2 linked regions of the Homo sapiens genome follow. The protein of the gene in region 1 interacts with the protein of each later gene in a biochemical or structural test. Each region holds a gene or a part of one and is shown in the gene's direction. Other genes may lie near its edges.

Region 1 (7,950 bases):
TTTTGAGTGCTTACAACTAAGAATCAAGACTGATATGAGGACTGGAAGACCAATGTCTGAACACTGAGAATGACACGTGTTAGGGGAGTTCGCCATCCCTGGCAGTCGGCCGTATTCTTCCTCTGGCAAGCTATGTGGGAATGACCAGAATCTCTTCCCCAACAGGAATGGACTCCAGTGCTGGGAGCTTCAGGCATTCTGGCAGGATGGTAGGAAAGACATCCTGGGCCTAAATATAAGGCAAGCTCAGAGTGGACCCAGTGGTTGGTCATGAGATATAATGAAATAATCCATTCACAATTTGCATTTTTATGAAATCCCTTTTCCCAGAAGGGAGATTTGAAAAAATGTTAATCCTTAGATAAGAAATCTGGGGCTCTAGAAGTGATGGTAGCCACAGCAAGGTATTCAGAATCTACCCTTTTCTGTTCTCATCTGACTTGCTTCCCAAGGTGTCCTGACAGTGAAATGAGAAAGGGGTACGAGGTTGGCAACGAGACACATCTTGTGAATGGGGTGACTGCTTTCATATGTATCATTACTTCATTTGATCAGCATACAACCCCATGAAGCAGGTAGGCTAATTGCTGTTAGCATTTCCATTTTTTGGATTAGGAAGCTCAGACTCAGAGATGTTAAGCCATTTGTCTAAGGTTTCACCTTGCCTGAAAAAAGGATTGCCTGCCATCTGACTCAAGCCTACATCCTTTCTCCAGGGACATACTGCTAGTGGGGTGGGCAGGAAAGGAGTTTAGAGACACCTAGATTGGAGGGATAAAGTCAGCACTGCTTATATTTGGCATCGTCTTTTCCCTGGCACTGCCACTGTCACCACCATCCCCCTTCTGGATCCCTACTTTACCCCTTCATGCTGCTCTGGTGGCAGTGCCTCTGCTGCCATGCTGTACTTGAGCCTGCTGCTACAGCCATGCCTGAAGATGCAGCCCCTTCCTCTCTTCCTGTCCCACCAAATATGACCAGCTCTAGGTTCCATTACTTCTGGACTTTGCTCCAAATAAAACTTACACCATTTTATTCCAAACCCAGGTCTCTTTCTGCAACACCCGAGAAAAATATTGGGCTGCAGGAGCCAGAGAGGAGAGAGAGATTTACTGGTGAGAGTTGTAGGTGGGAATTGAAAAGCCAAGTCATGTCTTTGCCCCACCAGAAACTCACTAGGATGTACACAATGCCACTGTGATGGTTTTAAAATATGTAACTAACCTGCACGTTGTGCACATGTACCCTAAAACTTCAAGTATATATAAAAAAAGAAAGAACTGCTGATACACATATCATGAAAAAAGACCAAATAAAATAAAAAAATAAAAAAAAATAAATAAAATAAAATATGTCCACAAATGCTTTGATGTTCCTTTGTTTCTTGATCTGTATGCTAGCAACACAGGTTCATTCCGTTTGTGAAAATTCATTGAGCTGTGCTCTTATGAGCTGTGTACTTCTCTACATGTATGTTAAATGTGGACAAGAACTTCACATAAAAATCATTTTAAGAAAAATAAAATATTTAGATGGGGGCATTTGAATAAACATTTGTAATGTTTTTATTACAAAAAACTCAAGACTTAAGAAATTGCTCAAAGAAACTGATAGATCAGGAGATAACTAGACACTATACAAAAGGTCTTTCTTGACTTACAGTAGGACTATGGTGGAATTTCTTTGTTTTTCTGAAGTATTAAAATCAGAATCTATTGAGACGTAAAACTCTTTCAGGATCATCACTACAAGTGAGGTACGCTTGCATTTTAAAGACTGTTTTGTCCCTCGGTTTCCCTAGGTATAAATCAGTGAATCCAGTGAATCATTCAGAATGCAAAGAAGGTCTTTAAACCATTCTGATTGGATGTGCTCAGCAGGGGCTGGAATTTGGCAAGAAGAAGGCACCAATAATCTAGGAAGAAGAGTTTGAATATCTGGTTCCGTGTCCAACGGGCAGAACTTGGCCACTTTCTAAGACTCCTGCCAGCTCCAGGATGCCAGTTTTATGAGGCAGAAAGAACACAGTGTATTTAAAAAAAAAAAAAAAAAAACAACCCTGAAACACAATTCTAGAAAAGTCCATTAATGCATCAGGAATACAAAGGGGCCCAAGAAAAAAATATATATATACATGTATATATATTTGAGAAACTCATATATAGTGAGTTTCTTTTCTGCTCTTAGCTCTCACCTCTCACCTACCATAGAATTGCCTAATTTTATTCAGGAAGTTGAATAAAATTTCACCCAGGAAAAGGTGGAACTAAACCATGCTGGGTCAAATTTTAGGTTAAGAATTTCTGTCCTGTGTTCTACCTTGAGACTAACTGTACTAATGGTTTCCAAGAGGCACTGAAAGAGTAGAAATGGTTGAAAGGCCAATGTAATAATTTGCATTAACTTTATTGTGGTTGGAAGTTTATGGAAGGATGGTTGAGTTACTTGCCCAAGGCCTTATTACAGATAGTGAAAGTTAAAACAATGAAGTTCTTAGAAGAAAACAAAGAATATTATTTTTATGGGCTTAGGATTATTTTAAACAGGACATACAAAACACTAGTCATAAGAGATAAGATTAATATTTTGAATGTCTTTAAAATTAAGTGCTTCTGTTCATCAAAAGATAACATTAGAATAATTAAAAGTCAACACAGATTGGGAAAAGATATTTGTTATACATATATTGGACAAAGGGCTCATATTCAGAATATGTAAAGAACTCTTATAGGTCATTAGGACAGACAACTCCCTACAAATGAGCGAAAGACTTGAACAGACACTTTATTAAAAGGGTATTGAAATGAACAATAAGCATCTGAAAAATTGCTCAACATCCTTGATCATCAAAAAATGCAATTTTAAATCACAATGAAATACATATCCCCCCCCTTTTTAAATTAAAAAGACTGAAAATACCAATACTGGCAAAGATGTGAAACAACCGGAAATCTCATATCACTGGTTGGAACCTAAATTGTTATACGAATTTAAAAACTGGCAGTGTATTTAAAGTTTAATATGTGAACACTCTATGAACCAGGAATCCAATCCTAGGTATATATATATATCCAACATAAATGAATGCTATGTCCACCAAAAGACATGTGTAAGAATGTCTGCAGCAGCTTCATCAAAGGCAGAAACATGAAGCAACTCAAATGTCCACCAACAGTAGGATGAGTACACAAATCGTTGAATATTTATATAATGAAGTAATACACAGTAGTGAAAAAGAATGGACCATTGTTACACACAACAATATGGATGAATCTCATAGACGCACTGTTGGGCAAGAGAAGCCAGACATAAAATTGTACGTGTTATGTATTTCATCCATAGCAAGTTCAAATATTGGTAAAACTAATCTATGGTGATAGAGGTTAAAATAGTGGTAATCCTTGTCGGATACTGAATGGGAAGGGGCATGAATGAGCTGGAAAGGTTCCACATCTTGATATGGATGGCAGTTACATGGGTATGCATATGTAAAAAATTATCATTCTGGACACTTTTGATTTGTGCGCTTTACTGAATGTTATACCTCAAAAACAAAAAGTAAAACAAAAAATCAGATCATATGTCTTGATTTCGCGTCTAACAATAGGATCACTGGCTTTCCCTATAAACACTCATATTGATGTCCTATCGCATTAAAGTTCCTGGATACTCACTCTCCTCTCCCTCGCTGGGAAAGACATATTTGAGAACTCTTCATAGTCTGACAGACAGGAGAACCACACTTATTTCAGGCAGGGTTGGAAGAGTAGGGCGGAGGAGATGTAAATACTGCATCTGGGAAGTAATCTTTTCCCCCAGCACCTAGTAAACGATCAATACAAGTACAATAATGTCTATTGATAAATAACATTGTCCAACATTGGCTACTATCTGATACATACAGCATTTGCCACACACTTTCTAACAGGCACTAGGCAATGCACTAATTGTTTCCCACGTATTTTCTTAATACTTATATAATTCTACAGAGCTGTCCCATTGTTAGTCTTGTCCTACAGATAGGAGACGCAGGTTGTTGGAGGGTTGGTTCAGTTACTTGCCTAAGGCCTTACAGAAAGTTTAAGTGGTGCATGGAGATCTCAACTCAGATTAGTCTGAATTCAGAACCTGGGCTGTAAACCACTCGCTATGTTATGAATGGATGGTGTCCAAGCCCTGCCTGCATGTTATATAACACACTGGACCAAGTGCTGTGGCATTCCGAATGGGGCCGAAGCGGCTGCGGCTGCCGACATTGGCGATGGACTCCCCGAGGCCCTTCGTCCCACTAACTGCACACAGGTGGTCCCCGGGGCCAGAGAGCCGCCGGCGCTCTCTCCCCGAAGACCACGCCTTCGCCTCCAGCCAGTTTGCTTGGGGAATCAGAAAGGTGCCCAGGGCCCAGAAACCATTAAGTTTTTTCCGACTTCAAAAACACACACCGGAGGTAGGCGTGGGCGTTACCCGCCTCACTCCTGGGGGCAGGGAGAACCAACGCGAAAATCCCCAGAGAGGCGGAAGAAAAACCTGCCTGCGAGAGAATAGGATGGAGATGGGAAAAGCCTGGGGAAGAGAGAGTTATGCGGCAGGAATAGCAGAAAAGCGTACTAAGCAAAAAGAAAGGTGTCCCACTAACTCCGAAGTTAAGTGGGTGTCGACGCAGCCCCCTCTATTGCGCTTGCGCAGTGCTGCCTCCCTGAGCACCCCGCCCCTTCCCGCCGCTGAGGATTTACTCGTCTCTTGGCAACCATTCACCCGAAGAGCCAATCAGAGGGCAGCCCTCGCCCCGCCCCTGCCGTCAGGGCCGGGCGGAAGGGTCCCGAGGGGACTGGCTCCGCCACGCCCCGCCCCTGGCTCCCCCGGGAGGGCGGCTCAGGGGCGGGGACGGGGGCGTGGTCCCGCCGTATAAGAACGGAGGGGGCGGCGGCGGGACGGCTCACTCGGTGCCGCTGCCTAGGGGCTGTAGAGGTCGCGCCGCTCCTGCTGGGGCCTGCCCACGCCAAGGACCTGCCTCTGTCGCCTCCTCTTCTATTGCCCAGGTGAGTCCGCGACCCCCCTCCTCTAAAGGTGCGGCGATGCGGCAGCAGCCCCAGGGAGCCGCGAGCTCACTTAGTGGGGGTCCGCCCCCACTAAGTGGTGCTCAGGTCTTTGCCCAGCCTGGTAGGGGGCAGGCGGACCCGAGGGGAGCTGCGGACAGGTGCCGAGACCCGGTGCTCCTTTCCCCTCCTGCTCCCTCGAGGACCCCCGCCCCTGACACACCCGTCCCAAAGGGCCAGAAGAGACGCTCCGAAAGGGAGCTACAACTTTCCAGAGACCTGGGGCTTGGCAAACTCCAGCGAGTTCCTGCTCCGCGCGTCCTGCAGGCTGCGCGCTGGCCAGGCGCGGGCAGGGCGTCTGAAGAGTGTGTGATCGGCGCCTCCGCTCCTACCTGGATCAGACGGCGCCCCCCGCCACCCATGCCTCCCTTCCTGGCTTGCAGTCCCTCGGGCTCGCCCCGGCGCTCCCGCGGGCGCGCACACCTTCGCCGGCCCGCCGAGTGTGAATTCGAATTCGGCGGTTTCACTAGGCGCAGCTGGAGACGCAGCGGTCCGGGGCTTGGATCTGGTTGGGGAGGGGAGGGGCGCTTCCTAGGCTCATTGCCAAGTCCTGAGTTTTAAGGAGAAGGGCGGAGATCCTTAAATTTAATGCGCTCACATCAGACTGTGGACACCATGAGCAGCAAAGGGATCCAAGCCAGTGACTTGTGCGCTGCGCGTCTCTCAGAAACTTCTTGGGAATGCGGTGTCTGTGAAACCTGCTTCCTCTCCTTTTGAAAATGAAACTTGCTTTACTGCGTAGGTGAAAAGCCACGGCAAGTGGGTCGACTCGGACGGATACCGGTGCGGCTGCCCCGGGAGGTGTCGCAGTTCGGGGACTCCCTTCGCACTGGTCGCGAGGCAGGAGGGAGCAGGGTGGGAGGCGAGTCAGAGGAGGGTGACTTACCTGAAGAATACAGGTTGGTAGCCTGCACACCTGAACTCAACGCTGGCGGGCGAGAAAACCAAGCAGCGCTACCTCCAAGTAAGGGCGCTCCCCTGGAGAAATGAATGCCTGGCGAGCTTCTGGAGAACCCACTATTAGGGCTGGACCCTGCGGGAGGGATAGTGTCAGCTCCCTTCCCCTTCGCCCTTTTTTGTCCATAGGTAGGCTTTTGTAGGGCTCTAACCAGTTCCCTGGCTTAATTAAGTAGGGGCCTGCTTCCTTTTTAACATTTTTGCTTTCTTACGGAGATATAAAGTGCATACAAATGAAGTGCTTAAAATGCACTTATAGTAAGAAAGCTTTTATAAATACTATGTGCATAATTATTTGTATTGTGACAACTTGGTCTTCAGGTTACTTTGTAGGTGGGTTAGGAGACTGAACCAGCCCAGGAAATAAAGTTAGGGTGATTAGATCCTCCCAAAGTACACTTCTGGCTGGCTCAGCTGCCCTCTGCGTGCAGGAAAGAGGGTGACCGTTGTTGGCGACAGCAACCTTTCAACGTGAGTAAATTGGCAAGGAAATGAGCCCAGGAAGTAAGTTGGGCAGCCGCAAGAGTGGTAGGAGAGCTTACCCAGAATTTTACTGTCTTAAATCCCCAAGGGTATTATTGAGGGTGTGAGACCAGCCACGTTAGGCCCTGCAGTGGAAAAGGGGGAGGGGGATGGGGAGTAAAGAATGCTGACTTTTCTCTGGGCTTTTAGGGAAACCTCTGAGCTGGGCTGCAGGGGTTCTGTCCTTTGACATTCTTGTTTGTGAAGATGGAAAATGATCTCTGGAGTCAAGCTTAGTTTATTTCAGATAATGAACTTTTTCTCTTAAGGTATACCCATAGCTTTAGAGTACATATATTCTCAATAAAGAGTTTTTAGGAAGATTTTGGTATATTGTATATAATTGTTCAGGTAGCTATGCGGGGGTAGGGGGCTCCCATAACAAAGTTTAAAAAAAAAAAAAAACTCTGCCAGGAGGCCTCTAAATTGTTACCAAAACAAAGATCCCTAATTTCATAAGCAGCTTCAGTGAGCACATAGAATTAACAGCCATATTTCTTACGCTGTTTTTTCCACAATACCTACCTTGTATCCAGGGATTAAATTCATGTAATTCTGAAGGAAAGGATTTGGCTCTTAGCCTGCTTGTCAGAGTGAGCATGACTTAGTTGTGCACCTGTGGCTATCTCTACCTGGTTTCTTCTCTTGTACCGTGAGCACAAGTAGCCACTGAAATCTCCCGAGTTCCAGAGGCCCGTCCCCCCTCAGCTGTATCTCCCCATAGTGCACACATTCAGCCCACATTCCCCCGTGTTCAAGGCCAGGGCAGATCATGCACATCTTGCGCTGCCGGTCAGAGAACAGAATTCCTCATATTTCTGAAAGTCCAAGGAACAGTGCAGCAGTAAAAATAACTTAAAAGTGGGCTGTAGTGCTCTTGTTTTCACAGTACCATTAACCAGACACATTTGATAGAAAATTTAAAAACTTCATTTAAAAAACTTTTTTTGTTGTTTTTACTGCTCAAGTACATAGGACCTTGTCTTCATCTTTTGTCTCTGATCAATGTTGTGTTCATGGAGTTACCTACTAAAGAAATGGAAACCCAAAGGCTCTCAGTGGATGAGTTGAACCTTTTTTTTTTTTTTTTGCATTACTGAGAGAAGTCGTGGAAGCCCAAAACTAGTTTCATGAGTTAAGCTAAACTTATGTTTTGGGGTTTCTTGGTTTCACACCTGTCTCTGGGTGTATCTGCTATTTTGTGTGCATGTGTGTGTGTTTAGGAGTTAAGGAGTAATGTGGAATGTGAGGTTACTTGGAATAAAACATTACTTGGGTTAGATAAGGTCTGTTGCTTTTTGTGTTGTCATTGAGGTAAACAAGGCACTGTAGGAAAATGCTTCCTGCCATCTTGGTGTTTTGACTATAGTACATT
Region 2 (7,101 bases), on another chromosome or scaffold:
AAGAGAGGAACAACAGCAATAGTGTTCTGTCGGGATCTGTTCAGAGTTAAGGCCACCAATATTGTTCAGAGAATTCAGTCAGCACACCCCTCCCACCTCAATCTGCTGTCCCATCTCTCCTCTTCATCACCAAACTTTTTTTTCCAAACTTTCTAAATAGTCTCCACTTGCTGTTTGACTTCTTCATCTTCGTCTTTCTCTTTAACCCACTGTACTTTGTCAAGAACTATGAAAGGTCTGAGATTTCATCCTCCTTGCAAGCTAATCACTTAACCTGCTATAGTTTCATGGAAGCTGGCAGAAGACGTGGGGCTTTGCAGTCAAAGGGCTGTATTACTCATGGCACAGCAAGCAGCGCCAGTGTCATGTTCAGTCAGTTCCCTTGCCCCCAGGTCTTACCTGGAGCTACATGGTGTGGTTCAGGTGAGTGATGCACCTGCAGTGGGTTTGCCTCACAGCTGAGAAACTCTATCTAAGCTTAGGAAATCCCCAATCTTTTTATAATAGGCTGCAAGAAAACCTGCTTGACCTTTACCTCCAAAGACATTATCTTCACTATATTGGATGGTAAACAAATGTGCCCCTGCTCTTGGCGGGGAGGGGGAGCAGGGCAGGGGACACTATGTATATTTTCCAAGGCAGTTTGACCAAAAAAAAAAAAAAATCCTTGAAAATATAGTCTAAAACAAAAGCTGTTAGTGCCTCTGCTCACAAGACATGCAGAAATACTAGAGTCCCACAGAGAATTGTCTTCCAGCACATTTCTGCATTTCTTCCCACTAGTCATACAGAAGATTGCTCTCTTGAAAATGATCAGTGATCTAATTTCCCGATCTAACAACCTTCTAGAATCCCAGAAATAAACTCATAGGACAATAATCATTCAAGAAATATTTATTGGGTAGCTTCTATGTGCCAGGCACTGTGCAGGCCCAAATAGACATGGTCTTTATCCTAATGTGGGGAGCAACAGACATTAACCTAGTAGTTACACATACCAAAATGTAGTTACAAGCTGTGGTAAGTCATAAGAGGGGAGGGTATATGGTGGTAAGAGAGCTGACATAACAAGGTATCTTGAATGTATCTGGGAGGTCAGAAATGTTTTTCCCAAGGATGTCGCTTTCAAGCTGAGACCTGAAGGATGAGTAAGAGATAGGATAACTAAAGGAGAGAATGGCATGTACATAGAGCCTTTGGTTGTTGGGATCATAGCATTTTTGAGAAACTAAAAGAAGACCAGGAAGTCTGCCCAGGAAACAAGGTGAAAATGGTGTGAGATGAGGCTGGAAAAGGCAGGTAAGGCCAGACCTCGTATGGTCTTTTAGGCTGCCTTAAGAATTCTAGACTTATCCTAAAGCAATGAGAAACTGTTTAAGGAGATTTTTGGAGTAGTGACATAGTCTCATTTGCTTTCTTAGAGGATAATTTTGGCTGCAAAATGGAGACTGAATGGAGGATCCCAGATTGTATACAGTGAGATCGAATTAGATTGGTGGTGATTGGAAAGAAGTAGACCAATTAGATTTTAGAAATAAAATTGCCAGGAGTTAGTGCTGCAACAAATATGGAGAATGGAAGAATGGAGGTGAGGGAGACATCAGCGGTTACTGACTACTAGATATTTGATTTGAATAACTAGAGAGATGGGGGATAAGGAAAACAAGTGTTCATGAACTCAGTTGGACTAAACTTTGCAACTTTGAGATATTAAGTGGCCATGTCAGTGAAGCTTGGAATTTAGAGGTAGGGTCAAACTTTGACTAGTGGATCAGATTTGGAATTTAGAGGAAAGGTCTGGGCTGGAGGCATATATGTGGAGATCACTGGCATATAGATGATAACTAAAGCCATTGGCGTGGGTGATGCTGCTTAGGCCAAGAGATTACAATGAAAACAGAAAAGAATCTAAAACTGAATTTTAAGGTACTGTTATATTTAATAGTTAGGGAGACCAGCAGGAATATGCAAAGGAATCAGAGAAGCAGTGCCTAGGAAACTAAGGAGGAAAACCAAGAAAATGCAGTGTCAAAGGAAGAAGAAATGTTTAAGAAAGAATAGTGGTCAAAGTGTTGAGTATTGTTGAGAGGCCAAGAAAGATGAGGATTGAAAATGGCTCCCATTTTATTGATAAAAAAAAAGTGAAGCATTGAGAAGAGAACTTGTTCAAAGCCAACATAATTTCTTGACCCTCTCTCTGTTCCCAGAGAACTCATACTGGTGCACATGCTAGGGTCATTTATGTGTGGGTTTTCTTCTCTCCAAAGGCCATAAATTCCTTGGTCTTCACTTTACTTCACCTTACTGCATTGCATATTATTGACTACAATCTCTAGGTCTTCAATAACATTCTTAAATTATGTGTTAATCTCCTTCAAAAACAGCTGATCTTCTTTACTCTGCCTTTACATGTAGGCATGTCCCAAACATATTTTTTTAAATATAGTTTTTAAAAGTGCCATGTCTTGGCCTCTCCCTGGACAAAGGAATCAGAATCTTGAGGGGGTAGATTGCAGGATTCTGTATTTTCAAAAAGCTCCTGAGTAGGAAGCAGAGTAGGAAAGTATTAGCTTAGCGGTAAGTTTGGAAACCACTATCTTAGTCTCAGACCAAGCATAGTTGGGCAGTAAGATGGGGAAGCCACCCCATTCGCCCACACTCTGATAAAATCCTCATACTTTGAAACAATATACAGTTATACTTCAATTATTCCAAGATCAACTTGCCAGCTGTCTCGAAGAGGGCCAAATCCAAAAGTTAAGAAAAGGAAACATCTCTCACAGGGAAAGAACTTCTGATAGTGAAGAGCAATGAAAATATCTCAAGATACCACTGCCCTATTTACAACCAGAAGAAAAGAAACCTCTCATTAGCTGGCTGTGGACATAAACATCCCATCAATCTTCACCTGGAGCCGCAGAGAAAACCAGCCGAGAAAGGAGAGAAGAATGAAAAATAAACAGTAAAGCAGAAAGAATAAGAGGAAGGATCAGAGTGGATAGAGGCAGATGAGGAGATGAAAAGCAGTGAAGGATTTTAGAAGAGGTGATGAGAACATTCCAAAGAGGGAAAAAAAGAGAGCACCAAAGTAGGGATTCTATACACCGCAGCAATCCTCTGGGACTTAAACGTATGGCCAAGATATCGGTTTGAGAGTCAGTTATCAACAAAGGATTTAATTAGCCATTGTATTCTTTAAGAATATAGAGAATAATCACATTTTAAAGAGATTTCTGTAAAACAGTTTTAAAAATACAGCTATTTTAAAAGATCGCACAATTAATACACTGAAATAAAGCCCAGACATGCAACTTGTTACATCCATCACCATTTTTGAAAGGACAGTTCCTGAGGCTGGACTCACCGGCCCAAGTACTACCCCCTCCCCAGGTCTCCGGCGGCAACTGTAAGTCAAAAGCCCTCAGGCATTATTGCAGCGTCCCACATTGTTTGAGGTTCCAGGAAGTCGCTGCTACGCTCACTTGTAAGTCTTCGTGCTGTTGTAAAAATTGAGGTCGTGGTTTTCCACGCGATTTGGCTGGCGAAGAGACCACGAAGCCACCCCCCACGTTTTCAACTGAGTAAATATCTAAATATTTTTGCTTGCTATCCAGATCCTGGGTTCGAAGTCTTTGGGATTAGAAACTTCCAAGCCCATTTCAGAGGCTTCCTAGTCCTTGGGAGGAGTGTCTTTTAAAGCACCTGCCAGCCTTAAGTTCGCGTGCTTTCGGAAAGGGGCCGACAGGGTGCGTCTCAGGGGAGCCTTTTGAAATGTGGATTGAGAATTGTGTGAGTGTCTCTAGGAACCTCCATTAACTCCACTTTTCCTGAGTGTAGCTCCGAGCCTGGCCACAGCGGATGCTACCACAAGCCAGGCGCAGCCGGGCCTCGGGAGAAAGCCGGAAGCCCGAGAGGGTGTGGGCGCTCCGGGAGCCAAACGCGGCCGCTCAGCCGCCACGCGCCGGTGGCCCCGCGGGGACTCGCGTTCCGGTGAGAGAGCCCCGGCGCGGCGGGCTCGAGGCGGGGGTTCGGGGTCCCGGCCGCGGGCTCCGTCGGCGGGGCCCGCGCAGCCGCACTCGGCGCGCCGACTTCGGGCTCCTCCTCCCGGCTCCGTAGTAAGCATGGCGGCGGCGGCGTTCGTGGTCCCTCGGGTGAAACAGAAAGCGGGAGCTACGCGGAGAGGGAGCGAAGAGCGGGGCTGAGGCGGCGGCGTCACTGCCAGGAAACAACCCCAACAGTCAGCGCGCCGGCGGCCGCGGCGGCCCTGAGAGCTGACTCTGCAGCTGAGGTAGAGAGACAACGATCAGGAACCCTAAGAAGAGGCGCCAGAGGAGCCGCCTTCTGCCTCAGAACGGCGTGACTCGGAGGTGAGAGCGCGGGCACTCCCTCCGCGAAAGGCGGGGGACACCGAGCCGTCCCAACCCCGTCCCGCCCCGGAGGAGGCGCCGCGGAAACCGTTAGGCTGGGACTGAGGGCCGGGGCACTCTCCAGGGCTCGGCCCCGTCGAGGGGCGCGGACCACCCCCTTCTGTGGGCGCGCTGTGGGCAGAGGTGCAGAGGGGCAGTGGGGCCGGGGACAGGACCGGTCTACTAGTCGGGCACCTGCCGGGGCCGAGCCTAGCCAGGACACGCTTGCGGGGGCGCGGCCGGGGGCGCCATCCAGCCCAAGAGGAGGCGGCATCTAGCCCGAGGGAGGTGGCGCTGGTGCGCGGGCGGCCCTTCTCTCTGTCCCCCGCCTCCTCCCCGCGGCGAGCCGCGTAGCTCCGGAGGGCTCGGGGGCGGGGGCGGGGGCGGGGGCTGGGGCGGAATCCTCCTGAGAGGATCGCCCAGCACCCGCGGCGCCTTCGGCTTTGGCCGCCCGGCAGCCGCCGAACTTGAACGCTTTTCTGAAGAGAGTTTTCCCCGCTCATCTTGGGGTTAAAACCTCGAAAACCCGCCCTCTGTTTGATCCTGCGTGGCTGCTTCCAGTACCTGGCAGTTCCTCTCCCCGGGCGAGTTAACCACCTGTTCAGTCGGGAGGTGGACTCGAGGCTGCAGTCCTCGCCCGGTTTTAACAACCTGGATCTTCGAACTTTTGACACGGCTTTGGAAACGACGTCATGTGTTAGGTAAAGGAAAATGAACAGATAATTTCGCTGTCAGATTGCGAGCAGAAGAGGGACTGTTTTAATGGATGTGGTCGTTAATTGTTCTTTTATTCAACTGTTAGCGTTACAAGCCTTGGGATATTTTAGAGGGTGGAATGCGATGATTTGCTGGGGGTGCTAGAGATTGTGAATTCGAGATTTTCTTTTGTGAGATTTTACGTAAGTTCCTTTGGACACCTTTGTGTCTGACCATCTATTAAATAAGAGTCGCAGGCTGATGAGATTTTTTTTTTCTTTTTGCGGTATAATCATTATGTGTTCACTATGGGTTTTTAAAACCGAACAACGTAATTATTTTGCTTCTTACTGTGGTCTGTGTTTTTTAGTTCTTGAAACCAAAGTGTGTATGCTTCTGTATTGTAGGAATGAAATAACAGTTGAACTCTTACTATAATATTTTATCACCATGCTGTTACCAGCTCCAGTACTAAACATACGCCACTCAGGAGTTTGAGCCATATGTTAGGCAGAAACGAATTGAGTTTTGTGGTTCTGATCTTATGTTTGGATAAATATTTAGTTTTTGCGTATTTACTAACTCTTGTCATCTTGTGTCACCCACAAATGTTCAAGTGAGTTGAATCCCCTGTCTTTTGGATATTTTCTTGGTTGAATTAATTTTTCTTAAGTAATGAGATGAAGTACTCACTGAGACAGATGGTGGCCCAACAGAAAACAGTGATGAAGGATTTTTACCACATCTTTTATGAAATATAACCTGAAATGTTGCTTTTAGCTTTGTAGCCTACTAATCTTGCTTTCTAATCACACCAGTTAGTGGGAAGAAGGGATGATGACAGGAGAAACATCTTGTTAAAATTTTAATATTAAATCTTATATTTAAATTTTTTAGCACTACTACATTAAATTTTACTATATTGTCTTGTTTCATTTCATAGATCATCTGTTAGTTTTCTATGTGTAGGTTAACTGGAAAATTTTTTATCCCAGGCTGGCTACCGTTAGCCACCTGTATGCTTCTGAATTAACTCCCTCTTTTTCCCTTTTGTCTGAATCCTCCAAATCATTGAATGCTCCGGAAAAATAAAATCCTGGTTAACACTGTCAAGCATAGTTATAAGGGTAATTAATTTATCCCAAATTAATAATAAGCATTAAAAAAAACATTCTAGGATTATCTTCTTTTGGTGACGTCTGTGTCTTCACTTCCTCTATCTGTGTGAGTAATTGAGACCTGATTTATTTTAACACACATGTAATGATTACTCTTTACTAGTCACATTTCTACAATATAATAGTAAGCATATTTTATTACTAATTTAAAAATTTCTCCCTCTTCCCTGACCAGCCAGACATAGCTAAGGGCTGAGACATCCTTAACCCCCCGAAAAAAAGAGGGAATGCATGATTCATATTCTCATTGTCTTTTGTAGTTTTAGGCAAAGAGCATTTAATTTATACTTTATCAATTTTTAGTAATATTTGCGCTGTTTTAAAACATTTGCATTTTTTAAGATGTTCATGACATCCAAGGCTTGTGTATTTTATAATCTGCCAGTATTTTTAAAATACAATTTGATGAAGTAACCAAAAACGTTTTTTTTTTGAAACATTGTTGGTGCATTTTTGAATGAAAATGAATCTAGATCGTGTCTTTGAGAATGGTGTAGGGATATGCACATGATTTCCAATTTTATTAGCCAGATAACTAAGTGATTAGTGTTTCTGGTTTTTTTTTGTTTGCTTTTGTTTTTTTTGTTTTGTTTTTAGCATTGCCTAGCGGACTTCAAATAAACTCACAATATTGTAATTCCGAAGGTTTAGAATATGGTGCATATTTATTCCATTGAGCCTTTTACTGCTTCAGTTTATCACATTGCAAAACAAGAAATATGGCTCCCATATGTGTGAATGTCAAAAACTACTTGTTAAAACGAAATTAGTGGCCATTAATGTTGAAAGGCAAATTTTGTACTTTTACATGTATTGTGAGC

Evidence for each region. The genes of interacting proteins can lie anywhere in the genome.
Region 2: the proteins of TENT5C (region 1) and FNDC3A form a complex in vitro, tested with the Homo sapiens proteins (one study listed by BioGRID).

Annotation. Positions count from the first base shown.
Region 1 is NC_000001.11:117,601,115-117,609,064, forward strand, and holds the start of TENT5C (terminal nucleotidyltransferase 5C), read left to right. Parts: upstream 1-4,933; 5' UTR 4,934-5,039; intron 5,040-7,950. UniProt on the Homo sapiens protein: Catalyzes the transfer of one adenosine molecule from an ATP to an mRNA poly(A) tail bearing a 3'-OH terminal group and enhances mRNA stability and gene expression.
Region 2 is NC_000013.11:48,971,811-48,978,911, forward strand, and holds the start of FNDC3A (fibronectin type-III domain-containing protein 3A), read left to right. Parts: upstream 1-4,101; 5' UTR 4,102-4,367; intron 4,368-4,851; exon of another isoform or gene 4,852-5,107; intron 5,108-7,101. UniProt on the Homo sapiens protein: Mediates spermatid-Sertoli adhesion during spermatogenesis.